Homo sapiens: one gene and its partner. The protein of the gene in region 1 interacts with the protein of each later gene in a pairwise test. Each region holds a gene or a part of one and is shown on either strand. Other genes may lie near its edges.

Evidence for each region. The genes of interacting proteins can lie anywhere in the genome.
Region 2: the proteins of SEPTIN3 (region 1) and SLC39A14 interact in binary tests that used the Homo sapiens proteins (3 or more experiments, as listed by UniProt).

Annotation. Positions count from the first base shown.
Region 1 is NC_000022.11:41,964,824-41,972,447, forward strand, and holds the start of SEPTIN3 (neuronal-specific septin-3), read left to right. Parts: upstream 1-4,619; 5' UTR 4,620-4,854; intron 4,855-6,650; 5' UTR 6,651-6,669; coding exon 6,670-7,624. UniProt on the Homo sapiens protein: Filament-forming cytoskeletal GTPase. May play a role in cytokinesis.
Region 2 is NC_000008.11:22,405,260-22,412,281, forward strand, and holds part of SLC39A14 (metal cation symporter ZIP14 isoform a precursor), read left to right. Parts: intron 1-3,050; coding exon 3,051-3,237; intron 3,238-4,686; coding exon of another isoform or gene 4,687-4,856; intron 4,857-6,777; coding exon 6,778-6,947; intron 6,948-7,022. UniProt on the Homo sapiens protein: Electroneutral transporter of the plasma membrane mediating the cellular uptake of the divalent metal cations zinc, manganese and iron that are important for tissue homeostasis, metabolism, development and immunity.

The DNA of each region.
Region 1 (7,624 bases):
GAAGTGGTGTGATCTCGGCTCATTGCAACCTCTGCTCCTTGGGTTCAAGTGATTCTCCTGCCTCAGCCTCCCAAGTAGCTGCGATCATAGGCGCCCGCCACCAGGCCCAGCTAATTTTTGTATTTTTAGTTGAGATGGGGTTTTGCCATGTTGGCTAGGCTGGTCTTGAACTCCTGACCTCAGGTGATCTGCCTGCCTCAGCCTCCCAAAGTCCTGGGATTACAGGTGTGAGCCACCGCGCCTGGCCCCCATTGCTTTTTTTTTTTTTTTTTTTTTGTGAGACAGAGTTTCGCTCTTGTTGCCCAGCTGGAGTGCAATGGTGTGATCTCGGCTCACTGCAACCTTTGCCTCCCGGGTTTGAACGATTCTCCTGCCTCAGCCTCCCAAAGTAGCTGGGATTACAGGCACGCGCCACCACACCCAGCTAAGTTTTTTGTATTTTTAGTAGAGACAGGGTTTCACCATGTTGGCCAGGCTTGTCTTGAACTCCTGACCTCGTGATCCGTCCGCCTAGGCCTCCCAAAGTGCTGGGATTATAGGCTTGAGCCACCGCGCCCGGCCCCCCATTGCATTCTTATGGCAACCATGCAAGTGGGTCCTCACTGCTGTTCACCAAAGGTTTCTGACTCTCCAGCTATCAGCACACGGTAGGATTAAACTTCCCTGCCTCCTTGTGATGGGTGGGGCCATAAGACTAGTTCTGGCCAATTAGTTGTAATTAGAAGTGAGTACAGGCCGAATGGCTGATGGACTAATGGCTAGTCCACAATTTGTCACTCCCTCCTTCCCTCTGCCACATGACTAGCAATGCACTAGAAGGCAGCCTGGGTCCCAGAGGGAAGAGGGCACAGAGCAGAGCCTTAGTGGACCCAAATTACTGTGGACATGAGACATGGATGAGAAATCAATGTATCATTGCGGCCAGGTGTGGTGGCTCAGGCCTATAATCCCAGTACTTTGGGAGGCTGAAGTAGGAGGATCGCTTGAGGCCAGGGGTTTTAGACCAGCCTGGGCAACATGGCAAAACCCTGTCTCTACAAAAATTAGAAAAATTAGGCTGGACGCAGCTCACGCCTGTAATCCCAGCACTTTGGGAGGCTGAGAAGGGTGGATCACTTGAGGTCAGAAGTTTGAGACCAGCCTAATCAACATGGTGAAACCCTGCCTCTACTAAAAATACAAAATTAGTTGGGTGTGGTGGCACACACCTGTAATCCCAGCTACTTAGGACGCTAAGGCAGGAGAATTGCTTGAAACTGGGAGGCAGAGTTTGCAGTGAGCTGAGATCATGCCATTGCACTCCATCCTGGGCAATAAGAGCAAAACTCCATCTCAAGAAAAAAAAAAAGAAGAAATATTAGCTGGGCGTGGTGGCACATGCCTGTAGTCCCAGCTACTCAGGAGGCTGAGGTGGGAGGATCACCTGAGCCTGGGTAGGTCGAGGCTACAGTGAGCTGTGATAGTGCCACTGCGCTCCAGCTTGGGCAACAGAGTGAGACCCTGTCTCAAAAAAAAAAAAAAAAAAAAAAATCAGCATGTTGTTATCAGCCACTGGGATTTGGGAATGGTTGTTACTGCAGCATAATTTAACTCATTCTGACTGATATAATCTCCATTTTACAGATGAGAGGGGAGCTCAGGGGGATTGACTTGTTTGAAAATCACATAGTTGTAACAAACCCAGGCTTGAAGGACTCCAGAGCCTATGACACTTGTCTGGGAGGCCACCACAATGGTTTTGTGGTTGAGTGGAGGCCTCTGTTCTCTGAGGCCACTTCCAGGCCTATGGATCTTTCCTTTGATGGGAAAGCACCATATGTATAGATAGGAGAGGGCCATTGTCACTTTGGGCCCCTAGAGGGCAGCTGAAACTTGGCCTGTAATTACTGGGCAGGAAGTGTCCTCTAAGCCTCTAAGCAGGGCAGATGGGCAGGAGGATGCGGAGATGAACATGACTCAGGCCTTGCTCTCAAGGCCCTAACAGCCTGGCAGGGAGCGAGATGGAGGAATTGTAGATCTTGAAGTAGAAGAGACCGACCACATGAGGGCATCTGATCCCTATTTTAAAAGGCAACTGAGTCCCAGAAGCACAAGTTAATCTGATAGACGTTGCCTGGTGAATCGTTGGCCAAAGTGGGGAGAGAACCCAGGGCCACTGATTTCAGCCCAAGGCTGCTTATCTCACAGAGATCATGTAATCCAATGGGGCTGGGCCCAGGAAAGTCTCCCTTGCTCCAATCCGTCCAGGCAGAGCTGTGCCTCTCCTTCCCAGCACCCTCTGTTCTTCCTTAAGTCAGGCCAGTTCTCAGGGCCTCAAAGCATGGAAGCGCCAGATAGCTGCCCTCCCCCATCCACTGGGATCCCAGCACGTTGCCCTGGTAACCAGAGCCCAGCCAAGTTTGAGAACCTAAAGCTGTAAGGGGAGAGAAAGGATAAGAAGAGGGATAGGGGCTGGGCACGGTGGCTCATGCCTGTAATCCCAGCACTTTGGGAGGCCGAGGCAGGCGGATCACAAGGACAGGAGATCAAGACCATCCTGGCTAACACTGCGAAACCCCATCTCTACTAAAAATACAAAAAATTTAGGTGGGCGTGGTGGCGGGTGCTTGTAGTCCCAGCTACTCGGGAGGCTGAGGCAGGAGAATGGTGTGATGGTGTGAACCCGAGAGGCGGAGCTTGCAGTGAGTCGAGATGGCGTCACTGCACTCCAGCCTGGGTGACAGAGCGAGACTCTGTCTCAAAAAAAAAAAAAAAAAAAGAAGAGGGATGGGTGCTAGGCCCACACAATCACCATTCAATCATTCATTCATTCATTATTTCTTTCTAAAGAAATTTACCGGTTGGGCACGGTGGCTCATGCATGTAATCTCAGCACTTTGGGAGGCTGAGGCAGATGCATTACTTGAGGTCAGAAGTTTGAGACCAGCCTGGCCAACATGGTGAAACCCCGTCTCTACTAAAAATACAAAAATTAGCCAGGCGTGGTGGCACACACCTGTAATCCCAGCTACTTGGGAGGCTGAGGCAGGAGAATCCTGAGGCTTGAACCCGGGAGGCGGAGTTGCAGTGAGCTGAGATCCCGCCACTGCAGTCCAGCCTGGGTGACAGAGTGAGACTCTCAAGAAAAAGAAACTTACTGAAGCCAATTTTTGCCAGACCCTGGGGCCCAGAGAAGAAGATCCAGGACCTTCATAACTGAGCTTTCCACCCAGGCATGGTGGCTCACGACCGTAATCCCAGCACTTTGGGAGGTGGAGGTAGGAGTATTGCTTGAGCTCAGAAGTTCGAGACCAGCCTGAGCTACATAGGGAGACCCCCGTCTCTACAAAAAATAAAAACTTAGCTGGGCGTGGTGGTGCATGCCTGTGGTCCCAGCTACTCTGGAGGCAGAAGTGGGAGGATCACTTGTGCCCAAGAGGCTGCAGTGAGCCATGATGGCGCCACTGTCTTCCAGCCTGGGCGACAGAGTGAAACCCTGTTCAAAAAAACTAATAACAACAACAGCAACAACAAACGAAACAGAGCTGAGCTAATATGGTAGCCACAGATTAAAATAAACTAAAAAATCCAGTTCCTTGGTCACTGTAGACACATTTTAAGTGATCGGTAGCCATCTGTGGCTAGTGGCTACTGTACTGGACAGCACAGACATAGAACATTTCCATTATCACTGAAAGTTGTATTGCCCAGCGCAGCTCCAGAAGCTCACTCGCTAAAGAGAGAGACACACAGGAGAGCAGACCAGACAACACAGTGTTGTGTGGGCTGCAATGTCCTCCTCGGTAAAAAGCAGGTGATGAGGCGGAGATTAAAGGAGATGCCAGGAGAATGCTTAGCCTAGTTCCTGACTCAGGGTGAGTGCTCGGAGGACATCTGCCATCACCGTACAGGACAGTACTATAGGATCTGTTTACATACCTATCTTCCTAGCAGACTGTGAGCTCCGCCCAGCCCTGGCATGGTGCCGGGCACAGAGCAAGTGCTCAGGAAATAGTAGCTGTTATCAGCACCATTGTTATTATCACCACTGCTATGACAGAGGCAGCCGAGGGCTGTGGGAACACAGAAGAGGGCTCCCATCCCAGCCCCAGGGCCAGGGGCTGCTGAGAGTCGGCATTGCCAGAGCCAGGCTGGGTGGCTTTGTGGTCCCCTCAGGGGCAGGCCTAGGGCGGGGTCCTCTTCACACCCTTAGGGTCTGGGTACAGGGTCCAGCTGGAGCAAGCTGGGGCTCAGGGAATAGTTGTGGAAGGAGCTCTAGCCTCCAGGAACTCCAGCCCCCTTGAGGAAAGACCAGGTGAGTGGGCAAGATGGTCTGAGGGTTGCAGAGCTGAACAGGGCATGAAGGGCACAGAGGCAGAGCCAGAGGGAGACTCGCGCTGGGACTACCAGAGTGCAGCCATATTTGGAGTACCCCTGTTTTTACTGCAGACTCCCCAGGCATCAAAGTCTGTGGGAGACAGAGCAGATTTGGGGAGGGCAGGCTGCAGGGAACCTCCCTGCAGGTGGCCGTGAGTGCCAGCCTGGCCGTTACCAGCCTCCCATGGCTCTTCAGGATTCCAGAGGCTCAGAGCAGCCATTCACAGCCGCCCACTCCTAGGAAGCCAGCCCCTCCCTGCACCAGAGCCCAGCCCAGCACGGTCTCCGGGGATGTAGCTGGTGGGACAGTGAGCAGAGGGCTGGGCCCTGTGCCTGGGGACTGTGGCCTGGAGGCTGAGCAGGAGCTGAGGAGGGGACCAGAGGGACAAGGCCCCTAAGCTGGCCACCATGGCCAGACTCTGAGTGCAGGGGAGGTGAGGGGCCTGCGTGTGCCTTATCTTCCCAGACACACTGGATCCTTCTTGTCCTCTGATCAAGGTAGGTGTGTAGGGGGGTGGAAGGGTGTGGGGGTTTGTGGGGGTGGGAGGGTGGTGGGGGTGGGGTGGGGAAGGACCAAGCAATCCATGGAAGATGGGAGTGCAGTGAGGGGATGGGGAGTCGGGTGATGCCCTCGGACACCCTGTCCTCTGGCCTGCTCTGTGTGTGGGTGTGCACACTGAGGGGAGCTGTTTGTGGCTAAGTGCAGGGTAAACGTGTGTGCCCAAGTGGATGTGGCTGTGCAGGAGGGGGCAGAAGTTCAGGGCTGCAGTGATAGGCCAGGTGGGAAAGGGTTGGAGGCCAGGACAGTCTTGGATACAAATATATGGCTGGAGAGGGATGAGGGGCTGGGGGCACCATTGTGAGGGGTGATGCCTTCCCTGTCCGGTGCCCTGCCTTCCCCGTCCCTGCTGCAGACCTCAAGGACCTGGCTACATGATCACTCCCCTCCCCATGAGCCCTCTGGAACTGACTCCTCCCACCAGCCCTGGCCTTGTCCCCCAGCTGCAGGTCCCAGCCTGCTGTGTTAAAAGCAACCAAACCAACTTTTTTCTAGAGGGTGAGTTACTTGGAGTCCAGAGTAGCAGGGAGTGGCCCATCTACTAAGACCACAGCCAGAGTCCTGAGCTTCATCCTCGACACCTCTTTGTGCCCACTCCCTACCCTGGGCAGTCCCGCCACTTCTACCCCTGTGCAATGCAGCCTCCTCCAGCCCCAGCCCTAGCTCTGCCCCTTGCACAGCCCACGGAGCAGAGAGTTTCAACTATGTCCTCATGGGATCCTGGCTTCAATTCTGTTCCCATCTGATCCCTCTGTCACACTGCCCGAGTGGCCGTTCCCACCTACAGATCGGAATGGGTCACATTCCCTGGCCTAAACTTTGCTGTAGCCTGGCCTGGACCCCAGCTCACCTGCAGCCTTGGCTCTCCCCTCCCTGCTACATACAGCCTAGGAGCCCCATGTTGGATTTTCAGAAAGATGCCACACTTTCTCACCTTTGGGCCTTCTGTAGGAACAGCCCCAGCTCAGGTCTAGCCTCCCGCCTTTCTACCCCTAATGCTTAGCTTGGTGGAGCCCTGCCTACTTCCTTGCCTGGCATCCCTGGGCATGGCAGCCTCTTCAAGGGCGGGGACCATGGCTTGTTCACCAGATAAGCTCCTTCTGTGAACACTCACTGCCTCTCCATTTCCCATCCTCACCTTCTCCAGGGCTGGCTCTGTTTCTGACTCCAGCACTAGGCCAGCTCAGGGCTCTTTCTTGGTTCTGGGGCTCTAAGCCAAATTGGTCCTCTCTCATCCTGCCACCTGGACACCTGAGCTCCTATGTTGGCTGCTGTGGGTGGGAACCCACAGCCCTTTGGTTCTTTCTGGAAGAGAAAGGGAGAGACGTCTCCAGTAAGCACTGCCCTCCTCTGGAGTCCCTGAACATGTATGTGACCTCCATAGAGCTGTCCACAGAGACAGGGGCCACACTCAGGCCCAGGCAAAGGGAGACGTAAGCCCAGCCTGAGATGCCCCATGCTGGAGGCAGACTGCTCACTGGACGTGCCCACCCCACTGTGTGGTGGCTGGCCGGGGTGGGGTAGGTATGAGGTACAGATCAGTCTGCAGCAGGTAGGAGCCGTAGGAGGACAGGAGGAAGTTACATGCATCCTCCACTAAGGACTGGACAGTCCCCAGAACCAGGCCCCTTCAGACCCGGCATGCTCAGCTGCTGGTCAGGAAGGGGAGAGCTGAGACCTCCAGGCCTGAGCTCCTCACCCCTGCCTGGCCTCTTCTCTCTGTTGATTGCCTCAGGGAAAGACAAACGACCTGGATGGACCACAACTTTGCTCCTGCTCCTCCAGAGATGCAGTCGCATGGAGCTCCAGGCCCGGGAACCTCCTTCTCCCATAGCCATGTGCTGGGGCGCCCTATCCGCCCCTCGAGACTCCCTGGAGGAGGGTCCCCCCTCACCCCCGTCCTCAGGAAGACCATCCATCTGGATACCTTCCCCCAAAGCCATATCCCACAGACCTCCAGCCGGCTGGGCCTTGGAGCCAGGACCCGGAGTGTGCCCCCACAGGAGACGGGCATCGCTCTGGGGGCTTCCTTGAGCCCCCTGCCCACCAGCAGCCTTGTACCCAGGAAGCTCAGCTCCATCTCCTTGACTCTCCATCAGAACAGCCAGGCACGGTCCCTGGATCGCCCACTTTCTCACTGGGAAGAGTTGCCTACCCCAGGAAAGAAGGCTGCTCCCCATGAAGGAGGGAGGGTGTCCTCGCCAGGCTCGCCACCTGTGACCCTAGTGCCAGGGGGCAGGGTCCACTCTGAGGGCCCAGGGAACCCAGGTCTGACCAAATCCAACAGGATGCTTGCCACGGAGAAGCCCCTGGTGAGTTCCTACCTAGCCTTACCTTTCCAATCCCGGTTAGCCCAGAGTGCACCAGTCCTTGCAGAGCCAGGCTCGTTGGGCCAGGGGCACCTTGTCTCAGTGACTGACCACATGCCTACCAGAGCTTCTCCAGGAAAAGGCAAGCCCCGGGCCAGGGGGATCCCCAGACCCCGGGGGCGTCTCCAAAGGGCCAACACGACTGTGAATTTGACTGCTATGGACACAAGGACAGACGCAGCCAGACATTTAGCCACAATGGCCACCAACAGACCTAGCTTGGCTATCAATTTAGCCACACCAAACACATCCCAACTGGACACAGGCACAGAGTTCCCTGCCCTGGATATCAAGCTGGGCACAGCCAGAGACTTGTCTTCGGTAGGGACAGTCAAGTCAG
Region 2 (7,022 bases), on another chromosome or scaffold:
CCCAGCACTTTGGGAGGCCAAGGCGGGTGGATTATCTGAGGTCAGGGGTTCGAGATCAGCCTGGCCAACATGGTGAAACCCCAACTCTACTAGAAATACAAGAATTAGCCAGGCATGGTGGCGGATGCCTGTGATCCCAGCCACTTGGGAGGCTGAGGCAAGAGAATCGCTTGAACCCAGGAGGTGGAGGTTGCAGTGAGCCAAGATCGAGCCATTGCACTCCAGCCTGGGCAACAGAGCGAGAATCTGTCTCAAAACAAAACAAAATAAAAGGCAGCCTGGAAGTGGGGTTCTCAGCCCCCCAGAATCTTCCTCAGCGCCGCACTTGAGTCACTCAGAAATACTGAGAAAACACGGCTCCCAGGACGGTATTTCTCATAGAGTTTACCATTGACAGAGTCCATTACACACTATCCCGGGTGAGCCCACAGTCCCTCAAGGTGCAGGTGAGATTATCTGCATTTTATAGGAGAGGACACCGAGGGTCCCGCAGTGAGTCCCTGCAGAGACCAGGGCTGGAACGCCAGGTCTTTGGATTCTGTGTTCTTTCTTCCATATCATCTCTGCTAATCAGACTCTGGGGCTATTTGTGGCAGCCAAATATAAGTCAGCCAGCAAAATCTTTATATATCGACTTTGTTCCCTGTGCTGGTGTTGTGAGAAATAGAGAAAAATGAGTCATATTTAGGGAGTTGACTGTCACGATGGGGAGTTCAACCAACAGAGGACAAAGTCAGCAGGCACTGAAATGAAGCATTGCATTTTGTGGGTTGGACAGTAATTGTAGGATGCAGAAATGAGAGGGGGAGATGAGTGTGCTGCAGTCATCAGGGAAGGCTCGAGCGTGGGGTGTCCTCCAGCTGCCCCTTGAAAGATGAGTGCAGTGTGGAGATAAAATGGACGGGGGTGCTGGGCACTGTGGCTCACGCCTGTAATCCCAGCACTTTGGGAGGCCTAGGCAGGCAGATCACTTGAGATCAGGAGTTTGAGACTAGCCTGGCCAACACAGTGAAACCCCATCTCTACTAAAAATACAAAAATTAGCTCGGTGTGGTGGTGGGTGCCTCTAATCCCAGCTACTCCGGAGGCTGAGGTGAGAGAATCACTTGAACCCAGGAGGTGGAGGCCTCAAAAGTTGGGGGGGAGGAGCGGGGCCGGGCGCGGTGGCTGACGCCTGTAACCCCAGCACTTTGGGAGGCTGAGGCAGGTGGATCACGAGGTCAGGAGATCGAGACCATCCTGGCTAACACGGTGAAACTCCGTCTCTGCTAAAAATACAAAAATTATCTGGGTATGGCGGGAGATACCTGTAGTCCCAGCTACTTGGGAGGCTGAGGCAGGAGAATTGCTTGAGCCCAGGAGGCAGAGGTCGCAGTGAGCGGAGATTATGCCACTGCATTCCAGCCTGGCGACAGAGCGAGACTCCATCTCAAAAAATAAAAATTAAAAAAAGGGACGGGGGAACCACGTGGCTTGGATGCGAACACCTGAGCACATCAGATGCTGAGCCAGAGACAAGCACGCCCCCGTGCCCCCGCGGGGTAATGCAGCTGCGTGAGCCTCAGGACCCGCCAGGATAGCAGCAGCATCTCGGGGTGGCGGGAGTCCAGCCCCCAGCCTTAGAAGCGCAGGCACTTATTTTGGGAGCACACCAAGAGGGCTGACTCTCAGAGATAAGCCCATGTGAGACCGAACTCAGAAAAGGCCTGGCATGTAGGTGTAGACAGTATAATTAGAAGTGGAGCTGCAGATTTCACAGGAACGGTTCGTGAGAAGCGCTTACCTGCTGCCTCCCAAGGTGACTGTGTGTGGTGGCTGCTGGCCGGCCATGGCCCACTTCCCTGAATCTTCAGGTTTTCCTCCCCTAACCTCTGTGAACACATATGTCTTTCAGGCTGAGGGCAGTCCTATGGTTGAGGATGTGTGGGGCTGATCGGGCAGCACCACAGTTTTGGCAGAGCCCCGCCCTTAGACATTTCAGCTTCAGAGAAGTAGCTGGAACCCGCATTTTAACATAATAGCTCCCTGGGCTATTGTGATGTGCAGCCAGATTTGGTACGAAGCTTGTATCTTCAGGCACACACACAGAATGGTGTTTTCTTTCTCTTTTGTTTTGTGGGGGATGGAGTCTCGTTCTGTTGCCCAGGCTGGAGTGCAGTGGCGCGATCTCGGCTCGCTGCAACCTCCACCTCCTGGGTTCAGGTGATTCTCCTGCCTCAGCCTCCCGAGTAGCTGGGATTACAGGCGTGAGCTACCACGCCCGGCTAATTTTTGTATTTTTAGTAGAGATGGGGCTTCAACATGTTGGCCAGGCTGGTTTTGAACTCCTGACCTCAAGTGATCTGCCCATCTGAGTCTCCCAAAGTGCTGGGATTACAGGCGAGAGCCACCGCACCTGGCCCCAGAATGGTGTTTTCTAGAAACTATACCCTAGTGACAATATTTTGCTTTTTTTTTTTTTTTAAGAGACAGGGTGTTGCTCTGTCACCCAGGCTGGAGTGCAGTGGTGTGATCATAGCTCCTTCACTGTAGCCTCCAACTCCTGGGCTCTAGCAGTCCCCCTGCCTCAGCCTCCTCAGTAGTTGAGAGTACAGGTATGTGCCGCCACACCTCACTAATTTTTCAACTTTTTGTAAAGAAGGGGTCTCATGTTGCCCAGGCTGGTCTCCAATTTCTGTCCTCAAGTGATCCGCCTGCCTTGGCCTTCCAAAGTGCTGGGATTACAGTGTTAGCCACCGTGCCCTGCCACTTTGGTGACAATGATTGGAATCTTGTCATTCCCAAAGTTTCTCAGGCACTCATTTACCGACGGTTGTGCTTATGATGTGTAACTTTCCTGGCTGGCTGAGCCATAAGGATTAGTTACTAGTTTTTTAAGTTTAGGGAATACCTTGCCCTCATCCCTAGACTAGATGAATCTACAAATTCCCTGAAATTTGGACATTTCTGTCTTCTCTTTTTCCTCTGGGAAGGCTGAGTAGGTTGCTGTTTAGCAGGGCAAGGCCTGACCTTTGGGGTCTAAGCGGCTTCCTGCCCTTCCTGTGTTTCAGTGCTTTAGTTCTGGAGACCTCTTCACTGCCCACAATTTCAGCGAGCAGTCGCGGATTGGGAGCAGCGAGCTCCAGGAGTTCTGCCCCACCATCCTCCAGCAGCTGGATTCCCGGGCCTGCACCTCGGAGAACCAGGAAAACGAGGAGAATGAGCAGACGGAGGAGGGGCGGCCAAGCGCTGTTGAAGGTGAGCCAGGCCAGGAAGGCAGGAGCCCATCTCCCATCTCGCCCGCGTCTCACAAGGACCCCTGGGCTGAGCTGCTGCTGCTCCTCACTGAATGCCTCACCAGTGATGACCAGGATGAGGTTGTCGGTGTCAGGAGCGGGAGCGATGATTGGATGGATAATTTTTGTATTTTGCAAGGATGGCCTAGCACATTGTCAGACTCCTGGGCCGTAGCTGGCGAATGTTCAGAGCGTTGGACTTCTTGAGCGGCCTATGGATCCCTTTTTGGTCTGCTTTTTGTTTCATGTTGAACCACGGGGGCCCAACCCTTTGGCTTTTTTAATCTTTTTTTTTTTTTTTTCTGAGATAGGATGTCGCTCTGTCTCCGAGGCTGGAGTCCAGTGGTGCAATCATAGCTCACTGCAGCCTTGACCTTTTGGCCTGAAGTGACCCTCCTGCCTCAGCCTCCTGAGTAGCTGGGACTACAGGCGTGCACCGCCATGCCCAGCTAATTTTTAAATTTTTTGTAGAGACACGGTCTCACTATGTTACCCAGGCTGGTCTCAAACTCCTGGGCTCAAGTGATCCTCCTGCCTCGGCCTCCCAAAGTGCTGGGATCACAGGCATGAGCCACCATACCTGGCCTACTTTGGTTTTATAGTTTTTCCTTTAAGACCTCCCGGAGGCTGCACTTGGCCCCTGAATCCTTCTTCCCCTCCCTATCCCGGTATCCCTGATCCAGCCACAGTGGGCTTGCCACGAGCTGTGAGTGTACACCCTGATAGCCCTAAGCCCCATAGGGCCGGCGTGTGCTGCCTGAGTGTCGGCACCCGGAATATACTGTCTGTGTTACTGCAAGTCCCTGTTTTCTGCTGTCGTTATTTACTTGTATGGCTTTTTTTGTTTTTTTTGTTTGTTTGTTTTGAGACAGACTTTCGCTCTTGTTGCCCAGGCTGAAGTGCGGTGGTGCAATCTCGGCTCACTGCAACCTCCGCCTCCTGGGTTCAAGCGATTCTCCTGCCTCAGCCTCCTGAGTAGCTGGGATTTCAGGCACGCGCCACCACGCCCAGCTAATTTTTTGTATTTAGTAGAGATGGGGTTTCACCATGTTAGTCAGGCCGGTCTCGAACTCCTGACCTCAGGTGATCCACCTTCCTCAGCCTCCCAAAGTGCTGGGATTATAGGCTTGCGCCACCGCACCTGGCCTACTTGTATGGTTTTTAGGCTTCCATTGCTGTTTGCATCCGTCTCTCCATGGAAAAGGTGTTTCTCTTGGATAGCAATTTTGATAGTTTCCCTAGGCTTCTCCGCAGCATCTGGTGAGAGATGGACTCAGCAAATGTTTACTGATGGGTTGGTGGATCTCAGTCTGCCCCATCACACCTGAATTCAGAACAGGGCCGCCCCAGGCAGCAGGAGTGTCCCCACCCTCAGTAATAGAGGCCCTCGTCTGTTCTTGTTCCTCCACAGTGTGGGGCTTTGGTTTTCTCAGTGTCTCACTGATTAACCTGGCCTCTCTCCTGGGAGTCCTCGTCCTGCCCTGCACAGAGAAAGCGTTTTTCAGCCGTGTGCTCACTTACTTCATCGCCCTGTCCATTGGAACGCTGCTGTCTAACGCGCTATTCCAGCTCATCCCAGAGGTGCAGTAGAACAGAAACTTGCGCGTCCTCTTTCCCTGGGGCGGCACAGCTGAGCCAATCCCCTCCTCCCCTACCCTGGGCTCCAAGGCACCCAATGACTGCCACCTGAGAAATGAACCTGTCCCTCGTATCAAAGCCACAAACGACTTCTAACTCTGGATCTCAGGGCCCACCTCTCACTCCTCTGGCCTCTGCAGGTGCTGTCAGATGCAAGGTTCTTCCAATTTCCCTCCTCCTGGGGACTTGACAGTCTCCCCTCCCTTGTTAAGCCCCATACATAAGGCATCAAGGGAAAGCAGCAGCTATCGACTGCCGTCCATGCCTTTGGTGCTAAGTACTTGCTCTATTCTAAGGAGAAATCCTGGCAGTACTCAGGTCTGGGCACCAAGAGCTTATCCATCTGGAATGAGATGGAAGGAAAAGAGGTTACCAAGTGATATGTAGAATTGGCCTAAAAAGCGAGTGTTCTTTAATTTTGAGCAGGCCATCGTTTCTAGCATAGAGAGCCAAACACAGAACAAAGACTAAGACCAAACAAAATTAAAATGACAAGATAAATGGAAGGGGCACTCAGCCCTTTGTACCTTGCATCTTGACTTTTTTCTGATAGGACTGACTTCCTGGTACCTTGACTTGACTGTTTTGAAATGTTAATTTTGTTGTTTAATTGTTATCATAGAGGAGCTATAAAAATAAGGCCCAAGTTGACAGTCTGCCCACTTTTTTAGCTCAAGCAGGGATGCTGCTGTGGAGGGTGAGGATACGCAGACGTGTGGTTGACCCCATTAGGGAGTCATGGATGCTGCCCTTCACAAAGATCCCATGTCAGCTGCTTCTCAGGCTTTCCCAGTCAAAAGACTCACCCAGAAAAGACAGCAGATGGGATGCCATGCCTTGCCTGTTCTTCCTGGTTGAATGTGAACCATCTTGGTGCCATCTCAAAATTCTGCATGGCTCTGACAAACACTTTGCAGGGGAGGCCTCAACTTGGGCTATTTTTTCAGCTCCAGCAATGGAATATATTAATTTTTTAAAGATTTGAAATGAAAGGCCTTGTGACCTCCTGGAATGGAAATACTGTAATTGTGTGTGCTCCACCCCTGTGGCCTGCCAGGGAGTGTCTCATCCTGGTCTGGTTCTGTCTTGCCCTCTTTTGGGCCTGGACAGAGTGTCACAACTGGGAAATGTTCAAGGAAATATTTTTGTGACAGGGTGTTCCTGGAACTCTGTTCTTTGTGCTTGAGCCCCTCTCAGAGCACATGGAAATGAGCAAAGAAGTTGAGAGGTTAAGACACTGAATTTTATGGGCATTGGGCATGAATTAATCGTTCTCCATCCCTTCTGCCCTGCACATCTGGCTTGGTTGTGTCTTGCACAAAGCAAACCAAGTGGTCGTGGTGTCACCCGAGCCTGCGCCGTGTGAATTGGACATGCAAAAGCAAACGCAGCAGCAGAGTGATCAGCCTCTTTCCACCTGCTTGCATGTCCTATAAAGAGAGCCCTCGAGTCCAAAGTCTGTCCTGGACAGCCTCTGTGATAGGTCTGGGCAGACCTTGGGTGTGTGACGAGGCAGCACCCTGCCCTGCCAGTCACACCACTGGCAGGAACGATTTGGGGCCACCAGTGGCCACAGGGGCAGAAGTCACAGGGTTCCAAGGCCACCTTGAATTCCTCTTTCTTCTGAACTGATTGAAGGAAATTTCATCAGATGTGAATCACTAACAAATTTTCTATTTCTCTCTCCCTCCCTACTTGTCTCTCTCTGATTTTTCTTTTTTGTTCCGTTAATATCCACCAAACTTTTCCTTGCGACCTCCCTATCTGCTCCACCTTCCTCCCGCTAAATGGTGGTTGCTGTGCAATGGGGCATGTGCCTTCTCTCCCTGCCCTGGGTGGGGCTGGCCCTCCCTCCGCACGGCAGTGTGGGGATACGGTCTCCTCTGTGTGACCGTCATCTCCCTCTGCTCCCTCCTGGGGGCCAGCGTGGTGCCCTTCATGAAGAAGACCTTTTACAAGAGGCTGCTGCTCTACTTCATAGCTCTGGCGATTGGAACCCTCTACTCCAACGCCCTCTTCCAGCTCATCCCGGAGGTATGGCAAGCCAGGGCCTTCACCCCGGAGCATGCCGGCGGGCACAGTGGGAGGACCTCCGTTTGGATAGAAGGC